Linked DNA regions of Homo sapiens: all the other regions are linked to region 1. The links come from fine-mapping of genetic effects on gene expression. A gene starts in region 1. Each other region holds a variant in brackets. All regions are shown on one strand. Distances are between the middles of the regions.

What was found. PIP is the estimated chance that this variant, and not a neighbour inherited with it, causes the effect.
Region 2: its variant is the best candidate, but not a certain one, in a credible set for the expression of STK33 in whole blood (TOPMed, PIP 0.75).
Region 3: its variant is the best candidate, but not a certain one, in a credible set for the expression of STK33 in atrial appendage (GTEx, PIP 0.88).
Region 4: its variant is the best candidate, but not a certain one, in a credible set for the expression of STK33 in lymphoblastoid cells (CAP, PIP 0.57).
Region 5: its variant is the best candidate, but not a certain one, in a credible set for the expression of STK33 in transverse colon (GTEx, PIP 0.66).

Annotation. Positions count from the first base shown.
Region 1 is chr11:8,592,278-8,597,383 of GRCh38, reverse strand. It overlaps STK33 (serine/threonine kinase 33), which reads left to right and starts at 3,156. Exons shown (of 16, transcript NM_001352389.2): 1 at 3,156-3,301. RefSeq lists a silencer at 3,334-3,593.
Region 2 is chr11:8,622,873-8,627,978 of GRCh38, reverse strand. TRIM66 (tripartite motif containing 66) reads left to right here. Exons shown (of 25, transcript NM_001388022.1): 16 at 2,751-3,266; 17 at 3,428-3,620; 18 at 5,103-5,106. Among named protein-coding and RNA genes, the nearest start is that of STK33, 31 kb to the right of the region's middle. The variant C/G (reference allele first, on the strand shown) is at 2,763.
Region 3 is chr11:8,514,630-8,519,735 of GRCh38, reverse strand. The region is part of intron 1 of STK33 (serine/threonine kinase 33); the gene reads left to right. Among named protein-coding and RNA genes, the nearest start is that of STK33, 77 kb to the left of the region's middle. The variant G/A (reference allele first, on the strand shown) is at 2,214.
Region 4 is chr11:8,500,419-8,505,524 of GRCh38, reverse strand. The region is part of intron 1 of STK33 (serine/threonine kinase 33); the gene reads left to right. Among named protein-coding and RNA genes, the nearest start is that of STK33, 91 kb to the left of the region's middle. The variant A/G (reference allele first, on the strand shown) is at 2,139.
Region 5 is chr11:8,436,894-8,441,999 of GRCh38, reverse strand. It overlaps STK33 (serine/threonine kinase 33), which reads left to right. Exons shown (of 16, transcript NM_001352389.2): 12 at 1,247-1,322. Among named protein-coding and RNA genes, the nearest start is that of STK33, 150 kb to the left of the region's middle. The variant T/G (reference allele first, on the strand shown) is at 2,331.

The DNA.
Region 1 (5,106 bases):
TTCCTTGGCAGTGTTAAGAATTTGTCATGTTAGTGGTCATGGTGTTGCAATCCATTATCTCACTGAGAATTGATGACTTCAGCTATGGTTACTAGCCCTAATATTTAATGTAGCTGCCTTGAGCGACTTGAATGCTTAAAAAAAATGGTCTAAGGCATTATGTCAAGAGTTACCCAAGGAAACCTAGGATCTTTCTGTATATATTTTAGGGAATCGAGTATATTTTACTTTCTTGTATAGTTCCTCTGGTTCCTCTCTATAAATATTAGTGACATTTGCACACTGGAAATGAATATTTGTCTATTTGTCAGTCTATCTATCCACCTATTTACCTATCCATCTATATCTTACCATGTTCAACAAAATCTCTTTCCTTCAACCCTCCCCTCCCCTCTCTGCCTCCCTCCCTCCCCTCCTTTCTTCTATTAATTCTTTTATTTATTAACTCCATAATGTTTACTAACTAGCTACTAAGTTCCAGGCACTGTTCCCAGGCACTAGGAACAAGCAATAAACAAAGAGGCCAGGTCCCTGCTGTCTTGGAGCTTAGCTTCTGGTGAGGAAACAGGGAAAATAAAGAGCTTGTTTTAGATGGTGTTAAGTGCTCTGAGACAACAAAGCAGGGTGATGTGATAGACTGTGGGGTGGGGCTATTTTAGGTAGGAAGATCAAGGAAGGCTTCTCTGAGGAGGTGGCAAGTGAGCTGAGATCTGAATGATGAGAAGGAACCAGGCTTTAGGAGATACAGGGGCAGAGCCTTACAGAAAGAGGAAACAGCAAGTGCAAAATATTTGAAGCAGTTTAAAATAATAGTCAGTACAACAAAAAGATAAAAGTAGGAATGAGGGGAAATGAAAGAGAACAGGAGAAAGTTGTGATGCAGATATGCAAACTGTAGTTTGACAAAGTTATTAAAATTGAGTTGCAAATTTGGGTGCTATCTTCCTGAAGTCAAGGTGAAAGGGAAATGTGATCAATCTCATGGTCTGCTTTCTTTATTAAAAAAAGTCATGTCAGTTTCTCTAGGGAAAAAGTGTTCTTTTCTGGCACTCAGGATTGAAATATATTTCTTGCATTGACCCTCCTATACGGGGCATATAGGTGATTATATTAGTGTGGTAGGCCCCTCCTCCCAACTCCAAAGAGTTGGAAATACTATATGGAATTCAAAGGCAGGAATACAATTCATTTCAGAAAATACCATGACTAGGAATGGAAAGCCGTCAGAACTCTTTTGGTCTCTTCTTTCTGTATATCTTTTTCAGCCTTCCTCTTCTTTTCCCATTTTCCCTGCAGCCTGGCTTTCTACATTGCTTTTGGCCACATGGTGGGAAAGTATGTCTGTTGAAGGCTTCTGATTTTCTATTTTAAAGATGTTCTGTGTTTCCACATTAGCTTCCTAGAGAAAGATTGCAATCTCTCTGTCCTAATTCCAAATTCCTGGGAGAGGGATATGATTGCCTTATCTTGAGTCAGGTCCCTACTATTGGAGCAATCAACTGTAGTCAGGTGGCCTGGTTACCTTGTCTGAGGATCCAGGTCTAGTTTCCAGAAAAAGACATCTGGTTATACTGCTGTTTTTGAAATGCAACTTGCATTGAAGGTCAAGAAACCATTAGTGGGTAGAAACTAGCCTTAAAAAGAGATTAAAAGTATCAGGGTGCATAGCATGTGATGTGGGTAATGTTTTATAAAACTTGTTTCATTTACTAAATATATGAGTACCTGTGTATTGAGTGATAATGTAAAACATATTTATTTTGATGGATTGTGCTCAAAAAAGTTTGAAAAGCTCTGCGCTGGACAAGCTGGTAGGATTCTGCTACAAAGATGTAATAAACAACATTCTTAAAGTAATCCCTCTAGTAAATGCAGAGGTATCATGAATTTTTTTAAACAGCATCTCTTAATATAAGCAAATGGCATAGTGCTAAACATGACTTGGTTCATGCAATGTTGCCAACGGTGAAGACAAAATGGTACAAACATACAGTTTTTTGGTGGTCTGGTTTAATCCAGGGCAAAACGCAGTCCAGTGGTTGCTTTTGTTTTTAGAGGCAGGGCTGGCTATGTCGCCCAGGCTGGAACCTGTGAATATGTTACCTTATATGCAAAGGGCACTTTACAGATGTGATTAAGGACCTTAAGATGCGGGAGATTATCCTAGGAGATCTTTTTTAATCTCCTAGAGCCTGGTACCTAGTAGGACGTCATTATATGGTAGGTTTCTTGCAGCCCTTTGGTGGCCAGGTAGTTTTTAATTTTGTAGAGATGGGGGCCTCCCAGTGTTACCCAGGCTGGTCTTGAACTTCTGGGTTCTAGCAATCCTCCTGCCTTGGCCTCCCAAAGTGCTGAGATTATCGGTGTGAGCCACTGCGCCCGGCCTAGTCCAGTGGTTTGAAGTTTGAAGTTACCAGTCACCCATTATGACCATTTTGAGTTTTTTGATGAAAAGGACTGGATGAACTAGTTGCCAAATGTAGCCTCCCCCGAAGCAATACAATGAATCCACCTGCCGTATCAAGTTACTGGCTATCAATCAGCTAATTTTAGAGAACATCTGCCTCAAATAATTAGGCTAGTATTAGGAGAGTTGAATTTCTTCCCCACACTGCTAGAGAGTAGGACCCAGGACCACAGAAGCCATTCTTAGTTCAGGCCAGTAAATACATTAGCATACAGCTGGACCCTCTGTTGCATGGGGCAGGCATTCAGATGGTTCTCATAGGTTTGTAGCTAAAACATATCCCTGAGAATCGTCATTTGATCTGTCAGGAGTCTTCTCAGCCCCTGCGTGGGGACAAACACCCTCCCCCCAGCATTTTCCCGTCTTTTTAGGCCAGCTCCCCACTCACTGCAGTTCAAGGCTTGCAGCCCTTGCTCCAACTGGCTGGGGCTTGATGGGCTTGACTCCGAGTGAGAAGAGTGGCCTGAGCATCAATCACCTCAGTACTGTGATATTCCTGCTACAAAGCTTTATTTTACGTAACACGTGGCTGCTCCTCTGTGCCCCAGACGGGGTTTTAGGTCCTTCTCTAAGGCGAGCTGCCCTTGGGCGCGCCTGGGGCTGCACCTGGGTCACGTGGGCGCCGTTGTGCAGCCGGCACCTCCCGGCCAACCCCGCGGCTTGGAGAAGGGGCTTTGCACCCGCCGCCGCTGTTTGTCCTCGCGCGGCCCCCGTCCACTGCCCTGCGGTTGCTCTGCGGGCTGAAAAGTTTCTCCCGGTGCAGAATTCCGGGCTCAGCGACAGCCTGCGCCGAGTGTGCGCACCTGTCGGAGACCCGCCAGTCCGCCGGCCGCGGTGAGTGGTCCCTGGAGTCACTGGCTCAGGGCGGGCCCGCGGGATGGGGCGGGCGGCCCGGGGCGCAGCCGGCCAGGCCGTTGCTATGGCAACGCGGTGGAAAAACGGGCCTCTGGGTATCTCGCTGCCGGCCGGCTGGTAACCCCCCAGCGGAGGGACCGGGCCGAGCCCGCGGACCCCTCCGAGTGTCTCCTGGGGCCCAGCCGTTGGTACCCCATTTCCCCCGGGTCCGGTATTTGGGGTGGTCTCTGTCTGCCCCGGTTCATCTCCACCGTCTCACCTTCACCCCATCTTGGGACGTGAAACTTTTTGAAAGTTTAGAAGCGAACTTACTGTGGGGTAAGTGTGTGGGAAACATCCTTAGAAGTTCTGAAGTTGTGTTTCTTTTTTTTAAACTGCTAGAGCCTGGTACCTAGTGGGACCCCATTATATGGTAGGTTTCCTGTTGCCCTTAAGATAGTCTCTTGCACCTAGAGGCTGCACATAGGAGGTGAAAGGATGACATAAAGCAGCCCCGTACTGGCTCTGTGGACAGGTAATTTAAGAACTCTCCCTCAGCTTCCTAAATGTAGATTATAATTTCTCACAAGGTCGTGGGTTTCAGTGAACCTATATGTGAAGCTGTTTTGTGAACAGTACATGTGAAAAGCACTTGAGCGTTAGTAAGGGATATTTGCATGCTAAGAGTGGTCTGGTGCTCCCCGTCCCATATCACCAGCTAAGAAGGACCTTCTTTTTTGCCTGACCACCAAATGACTCCAATATCCAACCAGAAAATAGGATAGTCCTGCCTTGAAAGAGGGCTCTGTGAATGGAAAGGAACATCAACAAGTTTTGAACCCAAACTCTTTCCTTGTTCTCCAGGCCCGTGCCTTTAGACAGTGATGGATATGCAGATATATCGCGCATTTAAATTTTTAGCTCGTGTAAATCTCTGTTGCTATCTCAATGGGTCATACCAACCTCTAGTTTGCAAATCAGAAATCTTGGCCTCATCCTTGACACCTCGCACTTTCTTCCTTTCCATATCCAAACAATCATCAAGTTCTATTCATTTTATCTTCAAACCAAATCTCAAATCCATTTGAGTATCTCTGTCTCTGCTACTATTACCCTAGACCAATCTACCATGATCTGTTGTCCAGTAGTAGCCTCTTAACTAATCTAAAGGTATTTATCCTTTCCTTTCAATATTCCCATCCATTCTTTGCCCTGCAGCAGGAGTAGTATTTTCACAACTAAAATTTGATTATGCTACCCCCCAACCTCCTCTAGCTCAAAATCCATCATGGCTTCTCATTATTCTTAGAATAAAGACAAAACTCTTAATGTGGCCAAAAAGTTGGGTGACCATGTACATGACCATCCAGACCAAGATATTTTTGAGAGTTCGAGGCTGCAGTGAACTTGCCACTGCATTCCAGCCTGGGCAATGGAGTGAGACCCTGTCTCAAAAAAAAATAAAAAAACAGTTCCCAAAAATGAAATTATAGGGAGGTCAAAGGGCAGGAACATTGTGAATGCTCTCAAAACATCGAAACATTGCCATACTGTTTTTCAGAAAGATTATGCCAATTTACATTGCCACCGTCAGTTTTATGACACCCATATTAGCATTATTATTTTAAAAACTTTGCTAATTTCACAGATAAAAATGGCACCTCCTTATTTTAACTCACATCTGTCATTATTAATATGTTTTAAGTGAAATCTTATTGTTAGCTATTAGCAAAAGCTTTTTGATGGTTTTTGTATTGGAGTCTTAGTTTTTTCTTACCAGTTGTTTAATTGTTTGATTTTTATCT
Region 2 (5,106 bases), 31 kb before region 1:
TATGCGCCTGTAGTCCCAGCTACTCTGGCGGCTGAGGTGGGAGGATTGCTTGCTTGAGCCTGGGAGGTCAAGGCTGCAGTGAGCTGTGGTTGTGCCACTGCATTCCAGCCAGGGTGACAGAGCAAGACCCTGTTCAGAAAAACAAAACAAAAACTTACTATTCATGGATGCACATGATTTGTGTGCACAGAAAATCCAAAGGAAAATCCCAGAGTGACTTTAGCAAGGTCTATACAAAGTCAGTATTCAAAAATCAATTGTATTTCTATATACAGTACACAAACAATAAAGAGAAATGGAAATCTACAAAATTATGTTTTATAATAACATGAAAAAACTTAAGATGCCCTTCTGAGCCTCATCTTTGTCAAGTGTAAAACTAGGTCTGCAGCAACAATAATAACAATAAAAATAATAGAAGCAGCAGTAGAAACAACTGGGGTTTACTGAGCATCTACAGTATGCCAGATATTGTTCTAAATGTTCACATGGATTGTTTCTTTTAACCTTTAATGGTTATTGTGAGGATTAAATAAAGTAATATATGTAAAACATTTAGCAAATTGCCTTGCATATAATAAATTCTCAATAAACTTTAGCTGTATAAAAATAATCATTATTTTAGAGAGACTCATAGACTAAGTTGTCAGTAGACCTAAGCTGCTGTTCATTTGGCTAAAGATTTGTAGAATAAACAGTCCTGTATTAGTGTTGTTTTGAATTTTTAAACAGCTCATTAATTCATTTATTCATCCAGACACTGCTCTTGGGTCTAGGAATATGGTGGGTAAGCAAAATAGATAAAAATCCGTACCCTAATGGAGTTTACACTTTAGTAGGGGAAACAGACATTAATCAAATGATATCACGGATTGTGGTATGAAGCTGAAAGTACAAGTACAAGGCATATGAGAGCATAAAAGCAGGAACCTAGTCTGGACTAGAGAATGAAAGAAGGCTTTCTGGCAAAAAATGTCAGTTGAGCTGAGTTCTGAAGGATAAGTGGAACAGGGCAGGGGTAGGAGAATTCTCTGTGCAGAGAAAGCAGTCCATCTGAAGGGGGTGAGGATAGTGGGTGGAGGGAGAGCTTGGTATGTTTCAGGAACTGGAAAAAATGAGTGACTAGAGTTCAGTGAATGAGGAGAGGGTTATTGAATGAGCTATGGCTACAAAGGAGGACAGAGGACAGGTCATCAGGGCCTCGGGAGTCTTGTTAAGGATTTTTGCAGTTATTCTAAGAAGAATGTAGCGCACTGCGGGGTTTTATGAAAAGAAATGATGTGATCGGATCCGTGTTTTGAAAATACTTCTCCATTGAAGAGGCTACTACTGTTGTCTAGGGAGATGTGAAAGTAGGTTAGGCTAGGGCACCATTAGCAGAGGGAAGAATTAGTGGGTATATTTGAGAGATGTTTAAGGGGTAGAATTGATGGGGCTTGGTATTAGCTTGGGTGTGGCAGGAGGGATGCTTCACTGATGCCTCCTTCCTAGGATCTGACTTGCAGAACTGAATGACTAGGAGTGACTTTCACTGAGATGAGGACAGTGTTCATGGCAAAATAGCTTTAGTAACTTTATATTGAAACTTGAGAATGTATTTGAAGTATTTATTTTCCTGTGAAAATGTGAATGGGGAAGAAATGACAGGTTCAAGACACTGATTTTGGAAACTTAGATAGATATGCCTAATTCCCATTTTCTCTTTGTTTTTCAAAAGATGTGAAATTGTTATATATTTAGTCTTTTTTTTAAAGGGCAGGGATATGAAACTTACACATTCCTGAAGATTATATTTAGAGCCAGTCTCCCTCCTTTTCCCTAAATCTGTCTCTTCAATCTGAAAAATGGAATGGATTCAGTACAGAAATCTGTATCTTCAACTTCTTTTTATAAACCTTTTACATCTCTTCTCCTCAGATGTAAGAAAATAATTTTGGAGTCAGAACATTACTGCCTTATCCAATGATTGTACGGATTGGGTGATATTAAGATTTAGCTGCTTTGATGTTCTCTGCCTCTGGTTTGGAATATCTTTGGCAGGTATACTAGGGCCAGAAAAGACCTTCAAATATCTTGGTTAAAGCCTACATCAAATGCTAGTAGTGCTTGGAGTTGATCTGAACAACCCCATAAGAAGGCCCTGCAGTTGACCCAGGTTCCCCAGGACTGATTGGAACTTTCTGAGCCTTGGCATTCTCTCAAAGAAGGTCTGAGGCAGATAAGAGTTTGAGCCTTCTCAACCCCCTGCTACTTTTGTATAGCAGAAACTATTCTATAGCACCCCTTGACGGGAAGAGAAGCCACTGGTGGTATAGTCAGAGGGGAATTTGAAGTTAGAGGGCAGTCCCACAGCCGGACCCTTTGCTTAGGTACAAGACTGGGGTGAGGGATATGGCTGTGTGTGTGTGTGTCTGTGTGTGTGTCTGTGTGTGTGTGTACATGCCTCAGGTCAGGCAATAAGTTCTCCTTCTCACTCTTGCTGTGACACACACACACACACACACACACACACACAATAGTTCTCCGCTTGTGCCTCTCTCTCTATGTCATAGCCTAGCAGCCTCCTTGGTTTCAGGAAGAGGAACAGGGCTTCATGCATTGCCTGAGTTCCTGGCAGCTACCAGCAGCTACCAGACTCTGAAGCCAGAGTGGAATTGGAGCATGGGAGTTCCTGTGGGTTGGGTCCCTCCTCTCCCTCCCTCCATTCCCAGCTAGCAGCCTGACTCTACCCCTTGTCTCTGTTCCTGCAGCACTCCACCTCG[C/G]TGAGCATCATGGGCTTTTCCAACACTCTGGAGATGGAGTTGTCATCTACCAGGTTGGAGAGGCCCCTAGAGCCACAGATCCAGAGTGTGAGCAACCTGACAGCTGGTGCCCCCCAGGCAGTACCAAGCCTGCTGAGTGCTCCCCCCAAAATGGTGTCCAGCCTGACAAGTGTTCAAAACCAGGCCATGCCCAGCCTGACAACCAGTCACCTACAGACTGTGCCCAGCCTTGTGCATAGCACATTCCAGTCCATGCCCAACCTGATAAGTGACTCCCCTCAGGCTATGGCAAGCCTGGCAAGTGATCACCCTCAGGCTGGGCCCAGCCTAATGTCTGGTCACACCCAGGCTGTGCCGAGTCTGGCAACTTGTCCTCTGCAGAGCATCCCTCCAGTTTCTGACATGCAGCCAGAAACTGGGTCCAGCTCCAGTTCTGGCCGAACTTCAGGGAGCCTGTGTCCCAGAGATGGGGCTGATCCCTCCCTGGAGAATGCTCTGTGTAAGGTAAGTCCTGGGGAAATGCTATCCAAACTTCCTTTGTTCATCATTGGGCAAAAGATTGGCCACTGGGACCCTTATTCTGACCTTAGCTTAACAGTTCTGAGACCACTAATGACAACCATGTCTGAGTTCTTTGATTCTTGTCGACATTTCACTTTTGAAAGATGGAAAGTGAGGATTCCACTCGCTTCACTGACTTACTGGGACAAGGTCCCATAGTCCCCGGTCTGGATGCTCCCAAGGACTTGGCCATCCCCTCAGAACTGGAGGAGCCAATTAACCTCTCTGTGAAGAAACCTCCACTGGCGCCAGTGGTCAGCACGTCTACAGCTCTGCAGCAGTACCAGAACCCAAAAGGTGAGACTCAAGCAGCCTGCCCTTCATGTTGGCCACAGACTTGAGCAGATGGACTCAGCACTTCTAGGTAAGAGAGGCCAGCAGACAAGCTCTAAGCTGGGGAAGCAGTGCATCTCTCTGAGGCTGAATTTACTTCTCTCCTCCGGAACTGTCTTAGTGACACCTGTTCTGCTTCCCTCACTGTGGCCATGGCTGATCTAGGCATGGCCAGGACTTACTCTTTTTGTAACACTCCCCATGCAAAGAGTCCTGGGGGTCTGCATTATACCTAGGGGGAAACAGAACTCAGCCCAGGAGGGCTAGCCTTGACAAAATGTTATAGGGAAAAGAGCATGTCTGACTTTGGAGTCCGATAGATGGAATTTGGTAAACCAGTTCTCTCTCCCTGTGATCCCGGGTAAGATACCTAACCTCCCTCAACTGATTTCTTTCTCTCTAAATGGGGCCAATCGCACCTACTTCTTAGGCTACTGGGACCAGTAACTATAGTGAAATCATTTGATAACTTCCTCTGAGTAGTAAGGATTTTCCTGGTACCTGACACTAATGTGGATTTGTGTTGTGCCTCATAGTGAAGGCAATTTGGACCATTGGAGATTGGTTCTGATTCGCTTCTCAGCTTCCCATGCCCCTTCTCCAACCAGGCTAGGCTAAGTTTGTTCTTCTGTGGAAGGTGAGGGCTAGTTGGGAAGTCAGGAAGCGACTTCCTGATGATCATTTGGGACTTTTTTCGTTCAATGTATGATGCGTGTTTAATTTGTAATGATTAGTCTGTTTCCTATATGTGTAATAAATGAAAACGAAAGAAATAATTTTTCTCCTTTTTTTTCACACTGACTGAAAGGCCAACTGAAAAATCGTTGGTTCTTATTACACACAATAATGTAACTCTGCATTTTATGCAGTTAAACTTTTTAGACCCTGCTTGCGCATGTACAGTGCCTAGGACCTTGCCTGGTGCTGAATGGATGCTAGTTTCATCCTTTTGCCCCATCACTGCCTCCTGCCCATCTCCATAGACTGCATACTCAGGGGAGAACTCCCTGGGAGCCTCTTTTCCATGGAGTGTGAGCTGGATTCTCAAGCACTGCTGGAATCCCAGCACTTGGCTGACATGGCAGAGGCTGGACAAAAAGACTCCTCAGAGGAGGCAACACTGGTGTACTGAGAACAAGTGATTTCTGAGCTCATCTTGAAGGTGAGAAACTGGCCCATCAGTGCCTGACCCAACACTTACCCATAGGCAGCCTCTTGAGTGTTACTTGTGTTCATCTTTTTAAAAGAAGGTGGGCTTCCTCCTCTCAAGAAGGAGATCCACGGCAGACTTGTCACCACTATGTATGAATGACTATAGTGTAGGTAACTACTGTATGACAGATGTGTGGCCAAAGGTATGAATAGCAGATATAAGTAGAAGATATGCATGACGGGGTTTGTTGCCACAAATGTGTGTCACAGGTATTTGTTTGTCTTTTGCCTTAGAGTG
Region 3 (5,106 bases), 78 kb after region 1:
TTCTAGTTTATTTGCGTAGAGGTGTTTATAGTATTCTCTGATGGTAGTTTGTATTTCTGTGGGATCGGTGGTGATATCCCCTTTATCATTTTTTATTGTGTCTATTTGATTCTTCTCTGTTTTCTTCTTTATTAGTCTTGCTAGCAGTCTATCAATTTTGTTTATCATTTCCAAAATCTAGCTCCTGGATTCATTGATTTTTTTGAAGGGTTTTTTGTGTCTCTGTCTCCTTCAGTTCTGCTCTGATCTTAGTTACTTCTTGCCTTCTGCTAGCTTTTGAATGTGTTTGCTCTTGCTTCTTTAGTTCTTTTAATTGTGATGTTAGGGTGTCAATTTTAGATCCTTCCTGCTTTCTCTTGTGGGCATTTAGTGCTATAAATTTCCCTCTATACACTGCTTTAAATGTGTCCCAGAGATTCTGGTGTGTTGTGTCTTTGTTCTCATTGGTTTCAGAGAACATCTTTATTTCTGCCTTCATTTCGTTATGTACCCAGTAGTCATTCCGGAGCAGGTTGTTCAGTTTCCATGTAGTTGAGCGGTTTTGAGTGAGTTTCTTAATCCTGAGTTCTAGTTTGTTTGCACTGTGGTCTGAGAGACAGTTTGTTATAATTTCTGTTCTTTTACATTTGCTAAGGAGTGCTTTACTTCCAACTATGTGGTCAATTTTGGAATAATTGTGATGTGGTGCTGAGAAGAATGTATATTCCATTGATTTGGGGTGGAGAGTTCTGTAGATGTCTATTAGGTCCGCTTGGTGCAGAGCTGAGTTCAATTCCTGGATATCCTTGTTAACTTTCTGTCTTGTTGATCTGACTAATGTTGACAGTGGGGTGTTAAAGTCTCCCATTATTACTGTGTGGGAGTCTAAGTCTCTTCATAGGTCTCTAAGGACTTGCTTTATGAATCTGGGTGCTCCTGTATTAGGTGCATATATATTTAGGAAGTTAGCTCTTCTTTTTGAATTGATCTCTTTACCATTAAGTAATGGCCTTCTTTGTCTCTTTTGATCTTTGTTGGTTTAAAGTCTGTTTTATCAGAGACTAGGATTGCAACCCCTGCTTTGTTTTTGTTTTCCACTTGCTTGGTAGATCTTCCTCCATCCCTTTATTTTGAGCCTATGTGTGTCTCTGCATGTGAGATGGGTCTCCTGAATACAGCACACTGATGGATCTTGACTCTATCCAATTTGCCAGTCTGTGTCTTTCAATTGGGGCATTTAGCCCATTTACATTTAAGGTTAATATTGTTATGTGTGAATTTGATCCTGTCATTATGATGTTAGCTGGTTATTTTGCTTGTTAGTTGATGCAGTTTCTTCCCTGCATTGATGGTCTTTACAATTTGGCATGTTTTTTGCAGTGGCTGGTACCGGTTGTTCCTTTCCATGTTTAGTACTTCCTTCGGGAGCTCTTGTAAGGCAGGCCTGGTGGTGACAAAATCTCTCAGCATTTGCTTGTCTCTGAAGGATTTTATTTCTCCTTCACTTATGAAGCTTAGTTTGGCTGGATATGAAATTCTGGGTTGAAAATTCTTTTCTTTAAGAATGTTGAATATTTGCCCCCACTCTCTTCTGGCTTGTAGAGTTTCTGCCAAGAGATCCTCTGTTAGTCTGATGGGCTTCCCTTTGTGGGTAACCCGACCTTTCTCTCTGGCTGCCCTTAACATTTTTTCCTTCATTTCAACTTTGGTGAATCTGACAATTATGTGTCTTGGGGTTGCTCTTCTCAAGGAGTATCTTTATGGTGTTCTCTGTATTTCCTGAATTTGAATGTTGGCCTGCCTTGCTAGGTTGGGGAAGTTCTCCTGGATAATATCCTGGAGAGTGGTTTTCCAACTTGGTTCCATTCTTCCCTTCACTTTCAGGTACACCAATCAATCATAGATTTGGTCTTTTCACCTAGTCCCATATTTCTTGGAGGCTTCATTCGTTTCTTTTTACTCTTTTTTCTCTAAACTTCTCTTCTCGCTTCATTTCATTAATTTCATGTTCAATCACTGATACCCTTTCCTCCTCTTTATCAAATTGGCTACTGAAGCTTGTGCATGCGTCACGTAGTTCTCATGCTGTGATTTTCAGCTCCATCAGGTCATTTAAGGACTTCTCTGCACTGTTTATTCTAGTTAGCCATTCGTCTAATCTTTTTTCAAGGTTTTTAGCTTCTTTGCAATGGGTTTGAACATCCTCCTTTAGTTTGGAGAAGTTTGTTATTACC[G/A]ATCGTCTGAAGCCTTCTTCTCTCAACTTGTCAAAGTCATTCTCCGTCCAGCTTTGTTCCGTTGCTGGCGAGGAGCTGCATTGCTTTGGAGGAGAAGAGGCACTCTGATTTTTAGAATTTTCAGCTTTTCTGCTCTGGTTTCTCCCCATCTTTGTGTTTTTATCTACCTTTGGTCTTTGGTGATGGTGACGTACAGATGGAGTTTTGGTGTGGATGTCCTTTCTGTTTGTTAGTTTTCCTTCTAACAGTCAGGACCCTCACCTGCAGGTCTGTTGGAGTTTGCTGGAGGCGTACTCTAGACCCTGTTTGCTTGGGTATCACCAGCGGAGGCTGCAGAACAGCAAATGTTGCAGAATGGCAGATGTTGCTGCCTGACCCTTTCTCTGGAAGCTTTGTCTCAGAGGGGCACCCGGCTGTATGAGGTATCAGTTGGCCCCTACTGGGAGGCGTTTCCCAGTTAGGCTACTCAGGGGTCAGGGACCCACTTGAGGAGGCAGTCTGTTCGTTCTTAGATCTCAAACTCTGTGCTGAGAGAACCGCTACTGTCTTCAAAGCCATCACACAGGGACGTTTAAGTCTGCAGAAGTTTCTGCTGCCTTTTTTTCAGCTATGCCCTGCCCCAGATGTGGAGTCTACAGAGGCAGGCAGGCCTCCTTGAGCTGTGGTGGGCTCCATCCAGTTTGAGTTTCCAGGGCGCTTTGTTTACCTACTCAAGCCTCAGCAATGGCGGACGCCCCTCCCCCAGCCTTGCTGCCACCTTGCAGTTCAATCTCAGACCACTGTGCTAGCAGTGAGTGAGGCTTCGTGGGTGTGAGACCCGCCAAGCCAGGCACGGGATATAATCTCCTGGTATGCCATTTGCTAAGGTCATTTGGAAAAGTGCACTATTAGGGTGGGAGTGCCCCGATTTTCCAGGTACCATCTATCACGGCTTCCCTTTGCCAGGAAAGGGAATTCCCCCGCCCCTTGCACTTCCCGGGTGAGGTGATGCCCCATCCTGCTCCGTGGGCTGCACCCTCTGTCTGACAAGCCCCAGTGAGATGAACCCAGTACCTCAGTTGGAAATGCAGAAATCACCCATCTTCTTTGTCGCTCACGCTGGGAGCTGCAGACTGGAGCTGTGCCTATTCGGCCATCTAGGAATCTGCCCCCAGTTTCATTCTTTTATATGTGGATATCCAGTTTTCCCAGTGCCATTTGTTGAAGAGACTGTTCTTTCTCCATTGTGTATTCTTAGCATCTTTGTTGAAGGTCAGTTGACTATATATGCATGGGTTTATTTCTGGGATCTCTATTCTGTTCCATTAGTCAATATGTTTATCTTTATGGCAGTATTATATTCTTGATTACTGTAGCTTTGTAATATATTTCCAAATCAGGAAGTGTGATGCTTCTGGCTTTGTTCTTTCTTAAGATTGCTTTAGCAATTTGTGGTCTTTTGTGGTTGCATGTGAATTTTAGGATTGCTTTCTTTTTGTAAAAAATGCTGTTGGGATATTGGTAAGGATTGCGTTTAATCTGTAGATTGCTTTGGGCAGTGTGGGCATTTTGACAATATTAATTATTCCAATCCATGAACATAGGATGTCTTTCTTGCCCCAGATCTTATAAAGCTTTCAGTTTTACGCCTTTGAGTGTGATGTTAACTATGGGCTTTTCATATATGGTCTTTATTACGTTGGGATTGTTTTCTTCTATTCCTGGTTTGTTGAGAGTTTTTTTGTTTTTTATCATGAAAAAGTGTTGAATTTTATCCAAATGCTTCTCTGCATCTATTGAGACAAAGATGTGATTTTATTTTCAATTCTGTTAATATGGTGTATCACATTGATTGGTTTTCATGTGTTGAACTATCCTTGCATCTCAGAGATAAGTCTTACTTGGTCATGGTTTGTGATCCTTTTAATGTGCTGTTGAATTCAGTTTGCTAGTGTTTTGTTGAGAATTTTTACATCTGTATTCATCAGAGATATTGTCATGTAGTTTTCCTTTTTCGTGGTATCTTTATCTGGCTTTGGTATCGGGCTAATGCAGCTCTTATAAAATGAATTTGGAATTCACCAGTGAAGTCTATAATCCTGGGCTTTTCATTGTTGGGAGGTTTTTGATTAATGATTCAATTGCCATACTAGTTATAGATCTGTTTAGACTTTCTGTTTCTTGAATTTATCTTGGTAGGTTCTATGTTTCTAAGAATTTTTCTGTTTCTTCTAGGTTATCCAGTTTGTTGGCGTATAATTGTTCGTAGTAGTCTCTTATGATTCTTTTTATTTCTGTAGCATGAGCTGTAATATCTCTTCTTTCATTTCTGATTTTATTTGAGTATTCTCTTTTTTTCTTAGTATAGCTAAGAGTTTGTCAATTTTGTTTATTCCATATGTCTCTTGTATTCTTTTCAATATTTTGTATTTTCTCCTTGATTTAATCTGGATGCATTTTAATTGTTCATTTTTCTGACTTCTCTTCCAGTTCAGCTGAGTTTAATCTGCTATTATGACCATCCTTTGAGTTTCTAATTTTTGCAATTGCATTTTTCAGGTCTTTAATGTCCTTTTGTTCATTTTTTGTGTTTTCTCATTTATTATAATTTTCTTGTCTGTATTTCTTTGATAGTTAGAGTCTCTATCTGATAACTTTAATGTTTGGAGCCTCAGTTGGTGAGTTTATATTCCTGGTTTTATTCATGTTTGCTTGTCTAGTCATGTGGCTGTTTTAAAAAAATTAAATTGTTTGCCAGACATTATATTTGAAACATTGTTTGCAGAGATAATCTGAGGTCCAGGATGGTGTCATCAACATTCAGAGAAGGATTATGTTTGTTCCTGCTAGCGCCTGTGGGTATAACCAGTCCAGGATCACGTCAACTCAATTTTAGAGAATGAGATGATTTGAT
Region 4 (5,106 bases), 92 kb after region 1:
TGACAAAGAGTGATCCAGAAAAAGATGAACCTGGGCAAGGGCAGGATGGTAGGAAGAATGTCCCACGTGGAGGGAATAGCACACGTGGCAGCACAGAGAGGAGAGAAACTAAATTGACATCTGTCCGAGAATGTCAGAGGGGAGAGTCCTTCCACTAGTGAACAGTTTCGATACATGCCTTCTAAGGCTCCTTCCAACTTTAACATTCAATAAATCTATGAAAAATATCAATTTTTAAATAGGTAACAGACTGCGTGGCTTCATTTGGTGAACTTTTATCATTAGCTTATATATCAGGCATATGTAGATGCAAATCAGGATGCTAAGCACTGAATAAGAGTTTCGAAGTGGAACCAATAGGCTATTCCAGAGGAAAAACAGACTACAGTTTATGGCTGTCCAGTGGTGTGTTGGTAAATATTTAGCAATCACCTTTCCAGAAAAATAAGCTCTGATTTATGGCATTTGCCAATTCCATGGTATAAGCACACCCACCATGGCTAATTTTAAGCTGCCATCACTGCTGTGGAGTTGGGAAGAGATGTGCATGAACACACCATTGTGTAGTATTTTCAGCATACAAATGCAGTAGGCACAAAGAACCGCAAGATTGCAGCATAAACTGTGATGAAATGATTAGGAAGTGATGAATTTTGAGTATTTATTACTTTTGTTCCTATATCATTTATTATAAGTTTATATAATTTATTTATTTTCCTTTTTTTTAGGGACAGGGTCTTGCTCTGTCACCCACGCTGGAATACAGTGGCGTGATCGTAGCTCACTGAAGCCTCGAACTCCTGGGCTCAAGTGATCCTCCTGAGCCTCCCAAGTAGCTAGGACTACAGGCACACACCACCATGCCTGGATAATTATTTTTTATTTTTATTTTTTATTTTTCTGGAGATGAGGTCTCCCTGTGTTGCTAGGCTGATCTTGAACTCCTGGCCTCAAGTGATCCTCCCACCTTGGTCTCCCAAAGTGCTGGGATTATAGACGTGAGCCATGGCACCTGGCCTATAATTTAATTTTTAATAGTAATTGTATTTGACAACTATATCTCAAAATTCCTGAAAATTTAACAATTGGCTCTTGCAAGTTGATACAGGCCAGCTTTAGCACATTACAACCGCTACCCCTGGAAATGCTGCTTAGGGTGTTGCCATTGTGAGAATTGACCTAGTTGTCAAAGGGCTCTCTGTGCTTCTTACAAAGCTTACATATTCCCACACCCAATGTAAATAATGATGTATTGGTTCATAACAGCAGTAGCTGTCAGTTTCATGGGAGTGGAGTAGAAAAGCTCCTATCTACCCTTTCCTCTGAATCCTGTTTTTCAGCTTTGACAGGCTTATGTCTGGCTAAAATAGTCTGTTGCACTTATTTTGTTATTGTGTAGAGGAGATAAAACATGGAGCGGGGAAAATTTTCCTATTTTGTATGAGTTCCTGGCAGAGCAAACAAATGACTATTTTTAGCCACTGGGAACTTAAGGAGTACAGTTTTAAAGTCCATTGTGAAACAATTTCTATGTAATTCCTTTTAAAGCTATTGTGTTCCATTTGATGTTTGTTAATTGCTGAAGGAAAAAGAGTCCTACCTATTTAAAACACAGAAGTCAAGTTCAAGTACAGGAGAAGTGTTAGAAAGGGGAGGGAGTCCCTTTATTATATAGATAAGGAGATTGGTGACAAGTCAGATAAAAAGAATGAGACCTAGTGGGCTAAATCATCATAATAAGAGGCTGGAAGGTGTAGACTGGGAGAAATGAAGAAGGGCTTCCCACCCAAGGAAGAAAGAGTAGTGAATTTTAAGTCGAACTGACTAAAATGCTAGTCAAAGACATAGATCCTTTGAGCTGGGAAAGCATTTAGGATTAATAGTTTCAAGATGGAGACTTTTTAACTTTTAGTTTCAGGGGTCCATGTGCAGGTTTGTTACATAAATAAGTTGCATGTTGCAAGGGTTTGGTGTCTATGTTGTTTTGTCACTCAGGTTTGAGCATAGTACCCAATCAGTAGTTTTTTGAATCCTCACACTCCTCTCACCCTCCATTCTCAAGCAGGCCCCAGTGTCTATTGTTCCCTTCTTTGTGTCCATGTGTACTCAGTGTTTAGCTCCCACTTATAAGTGAGAAC[A/G]TGCCGTGTTTGGTTTTCTGTTCCTGCATTAGTCTGCTTAGGATAATGGCCTCCAATCCATCTATGTTGCTACAAAAGACATGATCTTATTCTTTTTTATGGCTGTGTAGTATTCCATGGTGTATGTGTACCACATTTTCTTTATCCAGTCTACCGTGGATGGACATTTAGGTTGATTCCATGTCTTTGCTATTGTAAACAGTGTTGGTGCAATGAACATATGCATACATGTGTCTTTATAGTAGAATGATTTATATTCCTTTGGGTGTATACCTAATAATGGGATTGCTGGGTCAAATGGTAGTTCTTTGAGAAGTCGTCAAACTGCTTTCTGCAGTGGTTGAACTAATTTACATTTCCACCAGCAGTGTATAAGCATTCCCTTTTCTCTGCAACCTCACCACTATCTGTTATTTTTTTACTTTTCAAAAATAGCCATTCTGACTGGTATGAAATGGTATCTCATTGTGGTTTTGATTTGCATTTCTCTAATGATTAGTGATGTTGAGTATTTTTTCATATGCTTATTGGCTGCATGTATGTCATATTTTGAAAAGTGTTCATGTCCTTTGCCCACTTTTTAATGGGGTTGTTTATTTTTTGCTTGTTAATTTAAGTTCCTTATAGATTCTGGATATTTGACCCTTGTCAGTTGCATAGTTTGCAAGTATTTTCTCCCATTCTGTGGATTGTCTGTTCTGTTGATTAGTTTCTTTTTTTCCTCTGTGCAGAAGCTCTTTAGTCTAATTAGGTCCCATTTGTCAATTTTTGTTTTTGTTGCAGTTGCTTTTGGCATCTTTATCATGAAATCTTTGCCAGTTCCTATGTATAGAATGGTATTGCCTAGGTGATCTTCCAAAGCTTTTATGTTTTGGGTTTTACATTTAAGTCTTTAATCCATCTTGAGTTGATTTTTGTATATGGTATAAGGAAGGGATCCAGTTTTAATCTTCTGCATATGGCTAGCCAGTTATCCCAGCACCACTGATTGAATAGGGAGTCCTTTTCCCATTGCTTTTGTCAGCTTTGTCAAAGATTTGATGCTGGTAGGTGCACAGCATTATTTCTGGGCCCTCTATTCTGTTCCATTGGTGTGTGTCTGTATTTGTTCTAGCACCATGCTTTTTTGGTTACTGTAGCCCCGTAGTATAGTTTGAAGTTGGGTAACAGACTTCACTTAAATTAATTTTGGCAAATTTTTAGGGACGACTTAATTTTTAAAAATTTAAATATAATTTATAGACCATAAAATCTACCATTTTAAAACATATATTTTCATGGTTGTACAATCATCACACTATGTAATTGAGAACATTTTCATCTCCCCACGAAGAAACCTCATACCTATTAGTCACTTCCCAAGCCCTGAAATACACTAATCTGCTTTCTGTCTCTTATGATTTGCCTATTCTGGACATTTCATATAAATAGACTCATATAATATATGGGCTTTGTATCTAGCTTCTTTTACTTAGCAGAATATTTTCAAGGTTCATCCATGTTGAATATATATCAGTGGCCAAATAATACTCTATTGTATGTATATACCATGTTTTCTTTATTCATCAGCTGATGGGCATTTTTGCAACTTATTCATCAGCTGATGGGTTGTTTGCAACTTTTTGGCTATTATGAATAATGCTGCTGTGAACATTTGTGTACATTTTTGTGTGAACATGTTTTCAATTATCTTGGATCTAAGAGTAGAATTGCTGGATCATATGGTAGATGTGTTTTACTTTTTGAGGAAATCCCGAACTGATTTCTGGCTATACCATTTTACATTCCCACCAGCAGTATATGGAGGTTCTAGTTTCTCCACATCTCTTTATACACTCTCCAGCACTTGTTATTTTATTTTATTTGTTTTTTACTATAGCTGTCCTAGTGAATGTGAAGTGATATCTCATGCTTTTGATTTGTATTTTCTTGATAACTAATGATGCTGAACATCTTTTCATGTGCTTATTGGCCATTTGTATATTTTCTTTGGGAAAATTTATTCAAATTCTTTGCCCATTTTAAAATTGGGTTGTCTCTTTATTCTTGAGTTGTAAGAATTCTTTACATGTTCTTGATAGTAGGCCCTCATTAACTATATGATTTGCAAATATTTTCTCCAAGTCTGTGGGTTATTTTTCACTTTCTGGATAGTGTCCTTTAAAGCACAAATGTTTCTTATTTTAAAGTCCATGTATCTATTTTTCCTTTGGTTGCTCATGCTTTAGGTGTCATATCTAAGAAACTGTTGCCTAATCTAACATCGCAAAGATTTACCTCTATGTTTTCTTCTAGAAGTTTTATAGTTTTAGCCCTTACAATTAGGTCTTTGATCTATTTTGAGTTAAGTTTTGTATATGGTGTGAGATATGGGTCTACATTTATTCTTTTGTGTGTAGATATCCAGTTATCCCAGCACCATTTGCTGAAAAGACTGTTCTTTGCTCACTGAATTGTCTTGGTACCTACCCTTGTCAAAATTCAATTAGTCACTTGTTTTTTACATGTATATAGTCTCATTTCTGGACTCTCAATTCTGTCCTATGATCTATATGTCTGTTGTAGGCCAGTACCACAGTGTTTGGATTACTATAGTTTTGAAGTAAGCTTTAAAATCATTAAGTATGAGTGCTGTAACTTTGTTCTTTTTCAAGATTGTTTTTGCTATCGTAAATCCTTTCATTTTCATATGAACTTTACAATTATCTTGTCAATTTCTACAAATAGGTAGATGGAATTTCAATAGGGATTACACTGAATTGGTAGATCAGTTTGGGGAGTATTGATTCTTCCAATACATGAAGACAAAATGTATTTCCATTTGTTTCTTTAATTCCTTTCAATGAAGTTTTATAGTTTCATGTGTACAAGTCTTGCACTTATTCTGTTAATTTATTCTTTTTATACTATTGGATTGAATTGTTTACTTCATTTCATTTTCAGATTGTTCATTGTGAATGTGTAGAAC
Region 5 (5,106 bases), 160 kb after region 1:
AAACTTTTCTAAAATAAAAACGCACCTTTTGCATAGGAGGCACTCTGCAGCTGTGTAACATTAGGCAAGTCACTTAATATATGTGAAACTTAGTTTCCTCATTGGCAAAGGGAGTCAAATGCTTACGTATCTATCTCACAGAATTCTTAACATACTTCATACAAATAACAATTTATGCAAAAGTATAAATTTTAAAGTTCTATTGAAATATATACATATATTGTATTTTTCTGCTTATAACTATTTTCTTTTTATTTTTTCTTAAATATATCTGATTCATAGCTATAGAGGTACAATAGACATGTTCCTGCAGTGTCATTTGTGACTTTTTAAAAAGGCAGCCAGCTGAGTGTGGTGTCTCACGCCACTAATCCCACCTATTCAGGAGGCTGAGGTGGGAGGATCACTTGAGGCCAGGAGTTTGAGGCCAGCCTGAGCAGCACAGCAAGACCCCATCTCTAAAATAATTTTTAAAAAACAATTAGCCAGGCATGATAGTATGCACCTGTAGTCCTAGCTACTCAGGAAGCTGCGGTGGGATGATACCTTGAACCTAGTAGTTTGAGGCTGCAGTGAACTGTGATCATGCCACTGCACTCCAGCCTGGACAATAGAGTGAGACCCTGTCTCAAAAAAAAAAAATACACACACACACACACATATATATATTTAGTATAGTCTATGTCCTGTGACTAGTTGGCTTTTTGATCCAGTTTTATAGGAGCTCTCTCTTTGTCTTGGCTTTCTTATTTGAAAATGCAGAAAATAGTTCATATTCTGTTATAGGAGTGATGCTATTATTATTTTACTAAAGTGATTTATAACCACGTACCTTAGTTTTTCTGTGAATCCAGATTTCCACATATTGGGCCTGCATTATGTTACATCTACTTAAGGCATATATTTAATTCTATTTTGTGGAAAGGGCTGGGATATTGTTGTCTTCTACTATAACTACAGAATCTTTGCAAAATCATTTCTTAACAATTTAAAGAAATAAAGGGTAGTGCATTTAGTTATACAGTTTACACCATTGTTCCATTAGAAGCTAAATGATAGGAGTGAGGTTACAGTGACATCAATTGTTAAGGCCTGTGCATTATTCATTTAAGATCTGCTGTTGGTTCTCTTTTCCCTATGGGGGAATAAATTACAGCACATCAGCACATTTTTCATGCTTGTGTTTAAGCATTTAAAAGACATTTATTGTATTATTAATGTTATTTTATATCTGCTTGTTTGGCAGCCCCTGAAGTTATCAGTGCCCACGACTATAGCCAGCAGTGTGACATTTGGAGCATAGGCGTCGTAATGTACATGTTGTAAGTAGCCTGCTAAATGTACACTTTAAGATGAGTGGATAGTTTCTAACAGTAGAGTGATATAGACTTTAAATTAAAACTAATATATATTTTTAAAAAGTGATTTAAAAACCAATTGGGAGATCATTCTAAAAGCTCTCTTATTAGTTGTCAGGTATACATACATCCCTGAGGTATTTTTTAATACTGTAAATTTATAACTTTCAGCTTTGGTTTTCATTGATCTATAAATACAACAATATGATCTGAGCAAAATGAAAAATCTTAACACCTTCCGTATCCTTTGCTACAAACCAAAAGCTTCTTTGTGTTTTCTCATGAGGTTCACTTATAGCTTATCAGGTGTAGGGAGGTACTGTGGCCTGGCACTTGTTCTACCCATACAGGCAGAGCATAGGTGGGAGTGGGCACTAACTAGGCAGAGGGTCACTTAGGATCTAGGGAGTATTCTACAGTTCCCAGTTCCCATAATGATGTTGTGCTGCTGGAGCTTTCAGTCATTCTTGTTCTTCCTTCTCTGTCATTCTCAAGATTCAGTCAAACTCCATGTCCTGCTCATTTTTCCTTTGAAATATCCTTACCTATTCTTTGATTTCTCTTCACCTGTATCTTTTCTCCTTATGATTCCTTTTCTAGACTATTGCAGGGTCTTTCTGACTGTTCTCCCTACTTCTGGTCACCCTCCCCATGTTTGTCCTTCACGTTGCTGCCAGGGGTGTCCTTTCAAATCACAAATCTGATCATACTGCTTTCCTGATTAAAATCCTCTGATATATATATAAAAGCCTCTGATATATATATATATATAATTATAATATAATATATATGTAATCTAATACATATATATATGTATTTGTATACGGAGAAGTGTCAGAGCATCTTGGCATGGCATGGCATGGCATAGCAGAGCAGGTCTTTCATGACCTGATTCCAGAATGCCTTTCCAGTTTGGGGCTGGATATGTATTCCTGTGCACCTACACTGTGCTATAATGATTCCAGGTCACAT[T/G]TCAATACTCGGACACACCCTGTGTCATATGCCTCTGGAGTGTGTATGGGTATGTGTGTATTCTTTTTCTCTGTAAGATTCTCTCCTGGGTGGACCCAGCTCAAACATTAAGGCCTTCTATTTCTCTACTCCTACTTTACCCCACCATAGCAGAGTTCCTACATTTATTAGGTATATACTTTCTCATGCTCCACAAAAGATTTTAAGGTATCATGCAAAACAGTAATGTTGAAAGAAAAAATAATAAAATAGGAACATTTAACCAGGAAGGTTTACACATGTGTAAATCCAATAGAATTCATTGTTCCCTTTTATGTATCCTCATAAAGCTTTTAAAAACCATATTATAATATTATATATATTGTATCTGTTTTCCTTGTTCTAAATTCCATGGAGGACAGAGACCTTAGATTATTCATCTTTGCATTCCTGGTATCTGGTATAATAGACATACATTCAGTGCTCAATATGTTTGTTAAATTGAATTAAAGTGAATTTTCTAAGAGGTGTTCTGAAAAGTTAGTGACCATTGTTCTGCCTCTTGCTGAATGTGAACATTTTTATGTTGATGCAACATTAGTTTTATGGTCATATTGAAGATTTCACTATGCACTGCCTCTTCCAGATCATTTCTAAATATTGACATCACAGTAGTTACATTTTCACAGTTGTGTGAAATGGAATATACAGGCAGTAGAAATTGGATGATGTGATTGTAGCTGTAACTCAGCTGGTCAACACACATCGTTGCTTAGATTACATAAAGTATAAAAGTATTCAAAAAGTTTTTGATCATCGTTTTGTGCTGATTAAAATCATAGTGCAAAAATTCTGAGCCTTAGTCTTTAATTCAAATATAACTTTTAAATTAGTCTTTTATACTCTGAAGACTTTCTAGAAACCATGAGTCAAACATCCTATATATAATCTAATATTATGCAATTCATGTAGTGTTTGCTGCCTTCTTAGTTTGAACTTGGTGTTAAGGAAAGTGAATGTATTATATCTTAAATATCTTTCTCTTTCTTAGAAATATAATTTTAATTTTTCTGCTTCAGAGTGTGACTGCATATCACCATAATAATGTTGTCTTCTCTTTACAGTAGACTCTTACTTAGCTAATCAGTGCCTATTCATTAATCTGTCTGAGCCCAATGGTGTTATAATTTCCTTAATCAAGAGCACAAACATATTACCTTCTCCAGGGGGTTTATTTTCTTGTTTATCCGTTACCTTTGATTCATTTCTATTTAATCAGATGGTGATAACATACTTTCTCAAGGTGAAGTTAGCATAAGTAAATATTCTTTGTAGTTTTTGTCCTCTGCTGTTTTGATTTCTATGAATGCAACAAAATAGTAGGAAGACTTTAAGAGATATTTTTCGTGTCTTGGATTCCCTTTTCTGGATGTGCAGGAAATTGCTGTCATAAAATTTTGTATGCTGCTGATTGACCAACCATTAGATACATTTTTATGTAAATAAAATTGCAAAGAACAGAAAAAAAAGTGAATTTTTTAAGATGTAGCCCTTAAGCTATAGTTGCATGCTAGTCAGGCAATGCAGAGGCAGCTAAGAAATTGGTGGATGTGCATATCACTGGTTGATAACAGGCTCAATGAACTAGGCCTTTGCTGGCCTGCACTGTTTTAATAGATAGTAATTGTCCAGAAGGCCATTTTTCTGGCTATTTTGTTTTCCATAGCTTTTTAAATTGCATTTTAAAACTAAACAATAGCAAGGTGAATAGGATGAGAGAGAGGAAATCAGAATGAGCTAGAGAGATAAAAAGTATTAAAATAAGAGTTTGCAGAACAATATGATACTGATAAATACTTAGTAAGAACCTATTGGTAAATGAAAAAGCTCTATTGTCTGGTCTAGTTTGATAAACCACTAGGATGAAAGCAACTTTTCCCCCCACAAAAGTCATCATAATCATCATCATTACTATGAAAAAATCAAATTTTGACTTATTCAGAAAATGTTCATGAGTTAGATTTTTAAATAAAGAAAAATATAAAGAAAATTAGTAAAAATGTAACTGTTAAAAGATGTAGAGATTATTATACTTATGTACAGTGTAGACCAGCAGTTTGGGAAGTATAATGAAATTATGCCATTTTATTCTTTCATCAATGAAGTATAAAAATATATTCCTGAGAGTTGAAGAATAGACACAGAGTTGCCCCTGTGATGAATCTAATTACATCTGTCTGGTTGTCATTGGACAAATCTGGTTGTTATCTATAGGATTGCCCTCAGATGTTGGAGTTGACAGTAATGAGGATGGCTGACATTTGTTGATATTGTGTTATGAAGAATTGAACTCAGCTTTTAAGCTTGTTCTTGTAGTTTTGACCTAGATCACTTATTGAAGTAATAGCTTTACAGGCTTGCCATGTTCTATTAAGAGTCTAAAGGTACATTGTTTCTGTATTAAAGAATGTGAAAACAAGTCCATGTTCACTTTATACACAGTGCTCATGGTTTTACTGATGTTGGTCATTAGGTACACTTAGCTTTCACCCTTTCAGGCCAAAGGGTCAAATTATTGTCTGATTTTTCCACATTCAGACCCTTTTGATTTCATATACAATTTTTGATGAGTTGTGTCCGTTTTAATGGCTTTTTGGCATTGACTTAGGTCCTATAGAAATTCCCAGGGTTAGGGCTGGGTGCGTTGACACATGCCTGTAATCCCAGCACTTTGGGAGGCCAAGGCAGGTGGATAACTTGATGTCAGAAGTTCGAGGCCAGCCTGGCCAACATGGTG